Linked DNA regions of Homo sapiens. The protein of the gene in region 2 purifies or fractionates together with the protein of the main gene of each other region. This does not show direct contact. Each region holds a gene or a part of one and is shown on either strand. Other genes may lie near its edges.

Region 1 (3,500 bases), on a different chromosome or scaffold from region 2:
TTAGAATAGTTGAAAACTATAAAAATATATAACATTTAAGTAGCCCATAACTTCTCCATCCATATATAAACACTGCTAAGGTTGATTGATATATCTCTTTCCAGTTTTAAACATACTTTTACATCTTTTATATGGTTCTGTATACTTGTTTTCACTAAACAGTAGTCCATGAGCATGCCATTAAAAACTCTACATAAGCATTGTCTGAATAGGTAAATAATCTGTTTACAAGTGAGCACATTCTAATTTATTTTTATCCTCATATTTGGGCACTGCTTCAAAATTTTAACTACTGCAAATAATGCCTTAATAGTAATATAAATATTAATAAATACGATCTGCCTATCCAGTTCCTAATTATTTCCTTATAATTGGCATATTAAAATGGAAATTACTAGGTTCAAGGGTACATACATTTTCCAAGCCCCTTGAAGCAAATATCCTACTAGGTAATACATATAAGGTACTTTGCCCACAGTACAATATTGGATAAATGTAAACTTTAGTAATATTGCTATGATGGTTTCCAGGAATGTTTTGCCAACTCATACCCCTTCCACCTATGTATGAGAGTACCTCTCATCACATTCTCAATGACTATTTTTATTATTTAAGTCTTAGCTAATTCAGTAACTTAGAAATTCTATCTTGTTTGATTTTTCTTATGACCACTAGTAAGAATGAATTTTTGTCTCATCTGCTATATTGGATAAATGTATTTCCTCTTTAGGGAATTATCTACTTATCATGTCCTTTGGCAATACCACATGTGTTCCTTATTTGTATAAACTTGTCATATGATAAACAGTTTCTCTGCTATATTTTGTCATAAGTTTGTTTAAAACGGGCATCCCCATTTAAATTGTGTTCATGTGACTGTTGAGTGACTTAAATTCTCTTTTCATATTTTGGTTTAAGGTACCTACGTCCTCAGAAGTAATATTAGCGTTTTTCTCTCAGAGGAAATGAGTAGGTATGTCAAGATTCACAAACACAATTAAACACCAAACAAATCACCAGAAGAGTGATTGCTACTTATTGTCACTAATACATTTTGACCCTAGGCAAATTACATCTTAAAGACCACATCACAGGCAACTTATCAACAAGAAAGAATATAACACCAATTTCCCCCTGGAAGTACTATAATGGTGAGAAGTTCTGTTGAAATTGAAAAGGTAAAGAAGGCCTAGTATGATGGCTCATGCCTGTAATCCCAAAGCTTTGGGAGGCTAAGGCAGAAAGGATTGCTTAAGGCCAGAAGTTCAAGACTGTCTCTACCAAAAAATATTAGCCACGTTTGGTAGAGCAGCATACTTACAGTCCCAGCTACTCAGGAGGCTGAGGTGGGAGATCGCTTGAGCTCAGGAGTGAGTCTGCAGTGAGCTATGATCGCACCACTGCACTCTAGCCTGGCAACAGAGCGAGACTGTGACTCAAAAGAAAGAAAGGATAAAGAAATTTAACCTTTGTTTTCTCTGAAAGCATACTAATTTTAAATAGTGAAAAACTCAGATTAAGCATTCAACAAAAAAGGAGAAGAGGGGTAATTTTTTATTCCAAGTAAAGTGAAAACTAGAAAAACTTTCACAAAAATCAAAAGAAGCCCACTTTACCTGCAAGGCCTGGAGATGGCACTGATGAATTTGGTGACTGGACCGTTCTGTTTGAGGGTGGTCTTGGCTGGCCATGATCTATATTAGTATCTTTCCTCACAATATTGTCCAGCATAATAGTACTTGAACAGTCAATCTTACAAGAAAAGAAATTATTTCAGGGCATTCTGATTTTGCAAGTTAAAAGCTACTTTTAAATTTATAAGAAAGCTTCAATAACTTAATAATTATTATCGAATAACAAAACATAGATACCACATTTGAGAAGTTCTAACAGATATTTTCCCCATAAACAACCTTGAATAAAGGTTTTCACTATCTTAGTGTTTCACCTTAGTAAAATATTGAGGACGCTATTTCAAAAACAGGAGTCAAAAGGAATATCATGTCATTCACACTCTTAAAAATTGAAAAAATTCTTATAAACGACAAAAGCTTGCCATATGAAAAACATAAACTTGGTGAGAAGACTATCACAATTTTACATTTCTTGCGAATCTCTTTAATGTCTCCCTAAACAGCATTCAATCTATTGTGGTATATGGTTTTGCTTGAAAAATATGAAGAAAATCTAGCCTCACACAGATAGATAGGACCTAGTGGATCCTCTGAAAGGGATACTTTAACAACTGATACTCTGGGTATGTGCTAAATAGACGAAGTCCATATATCTACAGCACTAACCTCACTGAATACATTACTGTTGTTTTGTAGGAGAAAAGGTGAACCCTAAAGATTCTTGCTTTAATATAACAGGAATACAAATAACACTTCTTTTCCTTATTCATTGCCAGGCAAAAATATTTACAAATCCCTAATGAGTAAGAGTTTAATACTTTAGACACAAAAATTCTTTCATGCCTACATATACCAAATTTCCCACCAATGTCTTTGGGCTTAAAATCCAGTTCAATTCTTTAACATAGTTCTACTCTTGTTCAACCAGGATTCTATAAGATAATTAAGTCCTACAGCCATAGGGCACAGTTTGTATATAATGAATCAATTTCTTGCTTATGCACCTAGAATGGTACTAGTTATGAAGCACCTTTGGGAGGAATGAGAAAACAGTCACTCATTTCAGCTTATTCTGTAATTCCTAAGAGGAATTTCAGGTAAGAAAGCCTGGTGGAAAAAGGTTCACCTGTATGAGGACTGCAGAGGAAAAAGCAGAAAGAATTTTACTTTCTGTGGGTTCGGGGGCAGGGAAATCGGGCCAGGTGGTTAATATACAGGGTCATTTTTGTTTTAATATTCTTTTGGCAATACTTGGCCAATATTTTTCAAAGAGTACAAAAAGTACTAGAATGACTAAATTCATGAGAACTTAATACAAGGAAAGTTGTTTACTTTGTGGGATAATCCTAAAAGCCAAATAAAACTATGGGGATTAGATGTAAGTTTTCCTATGAACCATCCATGCATGAGAAAATATATGTATTCTACTCATTTAAAGTATACAAAACTATTTTAAAAATGGAATGACTCTGGTAAGATTAACAATGCAACTATTAGGAAATATTAATTGATCTCAACTTGAAAAACAAATAATGAAAATAAAAAAGTTATTTTCACAATCTTATAGGTAATTTGATCCAAGTAAAGAGTACAAGATATTTCCTAAAAGCTTCTTAACATTAGGTGCGTATGTATATGTGCACGACAGTAGGTTATCTAACTTTAGATTAAAAAAAGGATCAAACACAGAATCAACTTATATATGGAGATCTGTCTACAGAATGCAGACTTTCTGCCTTTGGAATAGTCATACTGGCTGGGTGTAGTGGCTCATGCCTGTAATCCCAGCACTTTAGGAGGCCAAGGCAGGAGGATCCCTTCAGCCCAGGAGTTCAAGACCAGCCTGGGTAACATAGGGCGTCTCCC
Region 2 (3,370 bases):
GGGAAGGCATGATTAGCTTTGAAATGTGAGAAAGGACATGAGATTTGCGAGGGACCAGGGTGGAATGATATAGTTTGGCTCTGTGTCCCCACCCAAATCTGTTGAACTATAATCCACAATGCTGCAGGAGGGACCTGGTGGGAGGTGATGGGATCATGGTGGCAGATTTCCCTCCTGTTGTTCTCATGATAGTGAGTTCTCATGAGATCTGGTTGTTTAGAAGTGTGTAGCACTTCCCCCTTTTTGCTCTCCCCTGCTGCCATGTGAAGATGTGCTTGCTTCCCCTTTGCCCTTCTGCCATGACTGTAAGTTCCTGAGGCCTCCCAGCCATGCTTCCTGTATAGCCTGCGGAACTGTGAGTCAGTTAAGCCTCTTTTCTTCATAAATTACCCAGTCTCAGGTAGTTCCTTATAGCAGTGTGAGAACAGACTAATACACATATTGTTTAGAGGAAAAATTTTATTAACAGAGCACAGTAGAAAATAGCACAACGGCCTTCTGATGGGGTACTAATGAAATATGGAAAGATTTAGGAGGTGGAGGCATCAGGTTTTCTGGAAGTAGGGAGAAAATCAGAGGCTAAAGAGTTTGAAAATGTGCACAGAACAGTTTGAGCTCAAAATGCCACTCCTACCTTATTTTGCCAGGTGATTATCAATTCACCACAATTCCCACAGGAAATGAGAGGCATTATCTTTTGCCAAATAGAACTTGATAGGCTATTAACTTGGGTACCCTGGGCCTGGAGGAGGATGGAAATAAGATAGAAGACTAAAAACAGGATACTAAGTGGAAGTCTGAATAAAAGGGGATGAACTCCAACTCCTATCCCACCATGTGGCGTGCCTCTGCCTGCTCGCCAGTAATGGTAGCCAGGCTTATATCCCCCATGCTGACTAGAACATCCTTCTCTGGGGAAATTAAAGAGCAGACCTCTGGAGAAATTACACTTCTCAAAGAAAAATTAACAGGCACTGACATTTAGGGTCCCAAAGGCAAAAAGTAGGTCACACTCAAAGCATCTAACTCAAAGACCCTGGACTTCAGTTGTAGACCCTGAGCAGATTAGACTTTGGATTGTCTCCCTTGGGTAAAATACAGTGGTCTCCCCTTATTCAAAGTTTCACTTTCCGTGGTTTCAGTTACCCTCAATCTTGGCCCCAAAATTTTAAATAGAAAATTCCAGAAATAAAAAATTCCAGTATGTTCTGAGTAGCCTGATGAAACCTCTTGCCATCCTGCTCCGTGCCTCCTAGGACACAAATTATCCCTTTGTCCAGCATATCCATGTCATCTACACTACCTGTCTGTTAGTCACTTAGTAGCCTTCTTGGGTTATCAGACTGACAAAACATAGAACATACAGGGTTTGGTACTATCTGAGGTTGCAGGCATCCACTCGAGGTCTTGGAGCATATCCCCCATGGATAAGGGGGCTACTGTATGCATTAAGTGTGGGAAGAAAGAGTTTGGTGACCGAAAGAACAGACTGTGGTAGAAATAATCTATGTGCTCACCACAATGAGGGGAAAGCTGTATTTCAAGCCTCCCTTTAAGTTAGGTTAGGGTTATATGATTGATCTCTGGGCAACGGAAGAGTAGAAGTGACTTCTAAGACAGAGGTTGACTTTCTTAGTTACAGGATCTGTAGTACCATGGCCATTTTTCCACAATGCTCCCAGGCAAACAAACAAAAAACCCATTAACTATCAATTCCATTTGCTAAGTAGTTAGTTCCAATAACATAATAGTAGTAGTTTGTGATGTCAATAGTTGTAGTTGTGATAATCTCCAGATTTTAAAATATCCTGGGAAGCCTGTGTGAGATCTCTAGAGTGGAATGGGAAACCTTGGCACCGAGTTTGAAACCTGTGGTTCTCAGCTGTTTCTAGGCTAGTGCTTAAAAACACTGCACAATGCTCCAGTTCTTCCTTTCCCTGCCTCTGGGACGTTGGAAGTTATGTGCTCCACACAGCATGACTACAAAATATGGGAAAGCAACAAAATGCTGGAAAGACCCCTGGGGAATAAACTTTCATTCAGTTAAGCTACTCCAATTTGTTGGGTTCTCTGTGGCTAGGATTGCGTAGAGCAACTTAATATGGTAGTCACTTGAGGCTAGTGAGAAATGGAAATCCACACAGTGCCACATTTCACAATTTTAAAAACAGAAGCAGAGTCAAATACTTTTCCACTAAACGTATCTTTATTTTGATAGAACTACAATTCACTTTAACCACTGCATTGCATAGGACACTGTTGTATTATAATGCTTGTACAGGAACGTGCATTATCACTAGTGTTACACATAAACACGTCACCAATCTAGTCAGTATCAACAGATTGATTTGAGTTCAGATGATTTTTTTTTCTATGCACGGATGTAAAATCACAATGTGTTTACTTGGATATTTTATGCAGATAGCACAAGATAGAGTATACCTATGCAAACAGCACAAGTTACAGTGATACCTATGTAAATCAGAATCCTAAAATGAGATACTTAATATTTTCATTATAATTATTTTCTAGGTTAAAAAAATGAAAAAATATTTAAATTTTAAACAAAGGCATATTACTGAGGCAGAATTCAGTGCAGATACAGAAGCTGGTACTACAACTGGCATAGTCAAGAAGACTAGAGACAGTATAGTGCACATTTAATGATGAATGGCAATTGCAATTTACTGCAGCAGAGCAAAATGGAAAAGCTGTTTGTTCTATTCAAAAGTGTTAAAGATACATAGTAGATAATACTTAAGACAATATTTAAGACATGTAATTTTTAGCAACCATTTAGTGAGTGTAAGTCAAAAAAGAATACACAAAATTACTCATATGAACTGCGAGTGAAATTTCTAACAAAACAATTTAAACAACTTTTAAAAGGGTCTGAGTTTGTAAACCTGGCAAGCTATAAAATAGCTTCTTACACATGCATCTACAAAGAACCTTAGATGGAGAGATGAAGAAATTATCACTTTATCGTATTTAGAAAATTATGAGGAAAAGACCTTAAAAGACATTCATGAAAACTGAAAACGTCAATGAAACCATTAAACAATTTTGCTCTTGGATATACATGAACAGAATATATTTTTGCTAATAGAATATTTATATTTTAATAATAAAGACCAATTAATTCAAATCTTGAAAAATTTCAAGTATTTTTCTTTAGCCTTAGATGAACTGTTTGATACAAGACACTGCCCAAAGAAAACTCTGGGTATATTCTGTCTCAAAGAACCTCCAAATTTACAATGTCGATTCATGTAAAGGCAATGAAATGTGAATTCATTGCCTAAAGGCTCAAACTCATGGCAGATATTTTTGACAATCTTCCATCTGTCAAAGAATTTCAGTTAGAGAC
Region 3 (3,500 bases), on a different chromosome or scaffold from region 2:
AAACAATTCCATTTGCAACAGCATCAAAAAGAATAATCAGGAATAAACTTAACTGAAGAGGCAAAAGACTTGTTTACTGAAAACCAAAAAACACTGCTGAAAGAAATTAAAGTAGACACAAATAAATGAAAAACATTCCGTACTCATGGACTGGGAGACTTAAAGTTGTTAAGATGTTAATACTACCCAAGCAATCTACAGATTCAATACAATTCCTATCAAAATCCAATGTGTGTGTATATATACGTTTTTACAGAAACAGAAAAATCCATCCTAAAACTCACAGGGAATCTCAAAAGATACCAAATAGCCAAAACAATCTTGAAAAGAACAACAAAAATGCAGATCTCATATTTTCTGATTTCAAAACTTATTACAAAGCTGTAATAAGTTTCTGTAGTTTGCTGACCCCTGCTTCAGAGGATTTCATCGAGTGTGACAGCAGCAGAGACGGAACTCACAGACCCATGCACCTCAACCTTAGGGTCTAGGAACGTCATCTGGTTTTTAGAGAATTACAGAGAGTGCTCAAAAGTGTGGCTGCTGGTCACCAGTGCAAACAGGATTTCATTAGCTTCTCAATCTGCTCTAGTAAGTCCTTTGTGAACAGAAATACCCTCCCAGTAGTATGCTCATTCAGTAAGCTAGTTAATGTCTGAAAAATTCACGTTCCAACTCTATTATCAAATGGAACGATTACTTTTTATTGGTTTTTAGAAAAACACAGAATTTTCAATAGATGACATCCGTCTTTTCATTATCCCACCTTCCTTTCTGAATCCTTCCTCCTGCTACCTATTCTGTAAATGATCAGTAGCATTCTGAGAGTTATACTTCCCAGTGAATTAGGGAGTCAATGTTTCTGCCATTTCTACTGTGCATGTTTTCATGCTGTTTTAGTTAAGTAGAAAATTCTCTGCATTGACGAAAGTATCTTTATTTTGCCTAATTCTAATGACTGGCAGATGTGACAGATTAACATGGCTTGAGTTATAAAAGCTCCATTATCACTAGAAGCAGGGAGAGATTAGAAGCTTCCATTTAGTTTTACAGCCAAGGGAAAGCTAATGAGAATTCTAAAACTTTTTTTTCAAGAAATTAACAAAACACATGGATTAAAGGTATAATGCACCGCAACTGTTTTAACAGCTAGAAGAATAAAGAACTTTTTTTCTTTCTTTTCTTTTTCTTTTTTTTTGAGACGGAGTCTCACTCTGTCACCCAGTACAACCTCGGCTCACTGCAACCTCTGCCTCCTGGCTTCAAGCGATTCTCCTGCCTCAGCCTCCTGAGTAGCTGGGATTACAGGCACCCGCCACTATGCCCGGCTAATTTTTTGTATTTTTAGTAGAGATGGGGTTTCACCACGTTGTCTAGGCAGGTCTTGAACTCCTGACCTCGTGACTCGCCTGCCTTGGCCTCCCAAAGTGCTGGGATTACAGGCGTGAGCCACCATGCCCAGCCAAAGAATTCTTTTTCAAGAGGTTTTAGTTCAACCTGTCTATCCTAGGACATGAGGTTTCCAGAGCTTGTCTGCAGGGATGACACATTTACTCTTAGTCTCTTGGGCTTCCAAAGAAAGCGGAAGCTGTCAGAGGAAGCTACTCAATGAGTTAGAGAGACGTTACCTGAATCCACGCCTGCTGTTTGATGTCGCCTTTGTGGGTTTTACCTTCATAGCCTTTGCCACCATACTTCTGATCTTCACTTATGCATTTCACGTGGTTTTTATAGTCATCGCCCCTTTAAAGTGATCAAAAGTTCTGCCATTAGACTGATACCCAAGTTGGAGGCGCTAATACCAGCATGCTGCCACTATCTTCTGTGGTCTACACTGTATATTTTCACATGTGTCTATCACACAAGCACCCCATCTATTTCACTTATTATGTTTACAGCCTCCTGGTCAGAACCACATCCCCCTTCCTCCAAAGTCGTCAATATAAAACCCATCACCAAACTTTTCCCCCATTTTTATAAACACCTTAAGCTAAATTGATAGGCAGTATTTTTTTAAGTCATAAGTGTACATATACTGAATAAACAAGAAAATAGTTCTATGCAATAGGGTAGTTTTTTTAAATTATAAAAATCTCAATGTCTAATAGACAGTCAATAATTAGTTGTAGAATAAATCAAAAACAGATATAAAATGGCAGCATGAGGTTACCAACAGTTCTGGATCCCTTAGGGTCCTGAGAAAAAAGAAAACTAAATTCTCTCTCATATAATCTTTGTAAAGCTCTATGGGGTTCTTCAGGGAAATGTTGGGGACAAGGTCCAGGGCAAAGTCCCCTAATGAAAACTCAATTTTAACCTACTTTATATATCAAGCTTCCTCCTAGGATTACGTCTGAACAGAGGTTAGCAGTTTCCAAAAAAAATCACTGCTCCAGAATGAATTAAAAGAGAGTATTAGCCAGTACCATCCGAATGCCTCAGAGGACACTGGGGCAGATGCAGCCAGAAGCCAGCTTCTCGCCTGGACCTTCTGAGGCTGAAGGGGAATCAACATGAAATTCAAGAGGGGAGCCCTCTGCAAACGACCCACCTGAAGAACCGGTGTCTAAGGCAGGATCTGTCCTGTCCCTCCCCGCTAACTCCTCACATTCACAGAGGCCTCCTCAGTGGAAGTGTCTCCTGACACACCCGTGGGGCCAGGAAGAGCCTCACTTCCACCAGCACCTCTGATTTTCTAGGGAGGACATAGTTTCCTCTGCTACCAGTCATCTGCCCCACTGTGAGCTCATAAATTCACTTTCTGGTTCATAAGTCCATCTCTCCACTGTGATGGGCATGTGATACCCATGGTCTAATGAAACTGGCTCTAAACCCCTGGAGCCATCTTCCACGCAGTTAGTTCCCTGGGTCTGTAAACAGTGGCAATGCAATAGCAACCAGTGTCACCAACTGACTGAACACTCTAATCATCATAATTCCCCTTCCCCTAGTCTTTTCTTTAACATATCCTCAAAAAGCAAATTGTTTCGTAAAGCACATTTCTCCCCCCCAAGAAGGGGTTAACTTGCTCTGTTGCCCAGGCTGGAGTGCAGTGGTGAAATCTCGGCTCACCGCAACCTCTGCCTCCTGGGTTCAAGCGATTCTCCTGCCTCAGCCTCCCGAGTAGCTGGGATTACAGGCGCCCACCACCACGCCTGACTAATTTTTGTATTTTTAGTAGAGACAGGGTTTCACTATGTTGGCCAGGCTGGTCTTCAACTCCTGACCTCATGAGCCACCCACCTTGGCCTCCCAAAGTGCTGGGATTACAGGCCTGAGCCACTGCGCCCGGCCTAGTAAAGCACATTTGAAAGAATCACACCAGTTTTAATCAATGGAACATACCAGTTTTTAGTCTTAATTTCATTCTTCAAATTTGCCACTATTTTTCCAAGCTTTGTGGCGCCAAGGCTTCCAAAACTGATCTGGATTTACTATGGATCTACATGAATTCTGTGAAGCTTACCAGAAATCTTTACCGCAGTCAATGCAAGAAAGGC

The links. Proteins that work in one complex are often made in the same cells at the same time.
Region 1: the proteins of ZNF483 (region 2) and TRIM24 purify together in Homo sapiens (affinity purification with mass spectrometry; 2 studies listed by BioGRID and IntAct, with this or other methods). This does not show direct contact.
Region 3: the proteins of ZNF483 (region 2) and LYAR purify together in Homo sapiens (affinity purification with mass spectrometry; one large-scale study listed by BioGRID and IntAct). This does not show direct contact.

What each region holds. Positions count from the first base shown.
Region 1 is NC_000007.14:138,571,759-138,575,258, reverse strand, and holds part of TRIM24 (transcription intermediary factor 1-alpha), read right to left. Parts: intron 1,753-3,500; coding exon 1,617-1,752; intron 1-1,616. UniProt on the Homo sapiens protein: Transcriptional coactivator that interacts with numerous nuclear receptors and coactivators and modulates the transcription of target genes.
Region 2 is NC_000009.12:111,552,548-111,555,917, reverse strand, and holds the end of ZNF483 (zinc finger protein 483), read right to left. Parts: 3' UTR 501-3,370; downstream 1-500. UniProt on the Homo sapiens protein: May be involved in transcriptional regulation.
Region 3 is NC_000004.12:4,280,155-4,283,654, forward strand, and holds part of LYAR (cell growth-regulating nucleolar protein), read right to left. Parts: coding exon 3,467-3,500; intron 1,744-3,466; coding exon 1,629-1,743; intron 1-1,628. UniProt on the Homo sapiens protein: Plays a role in the maintenance of the appropriate processing of 47S/45S pre-rRNA to 32S/30S pre-rRNAs and their subsequent processing to produce 18S and 28S rRNAs. Also acts at the level of transcription regulation.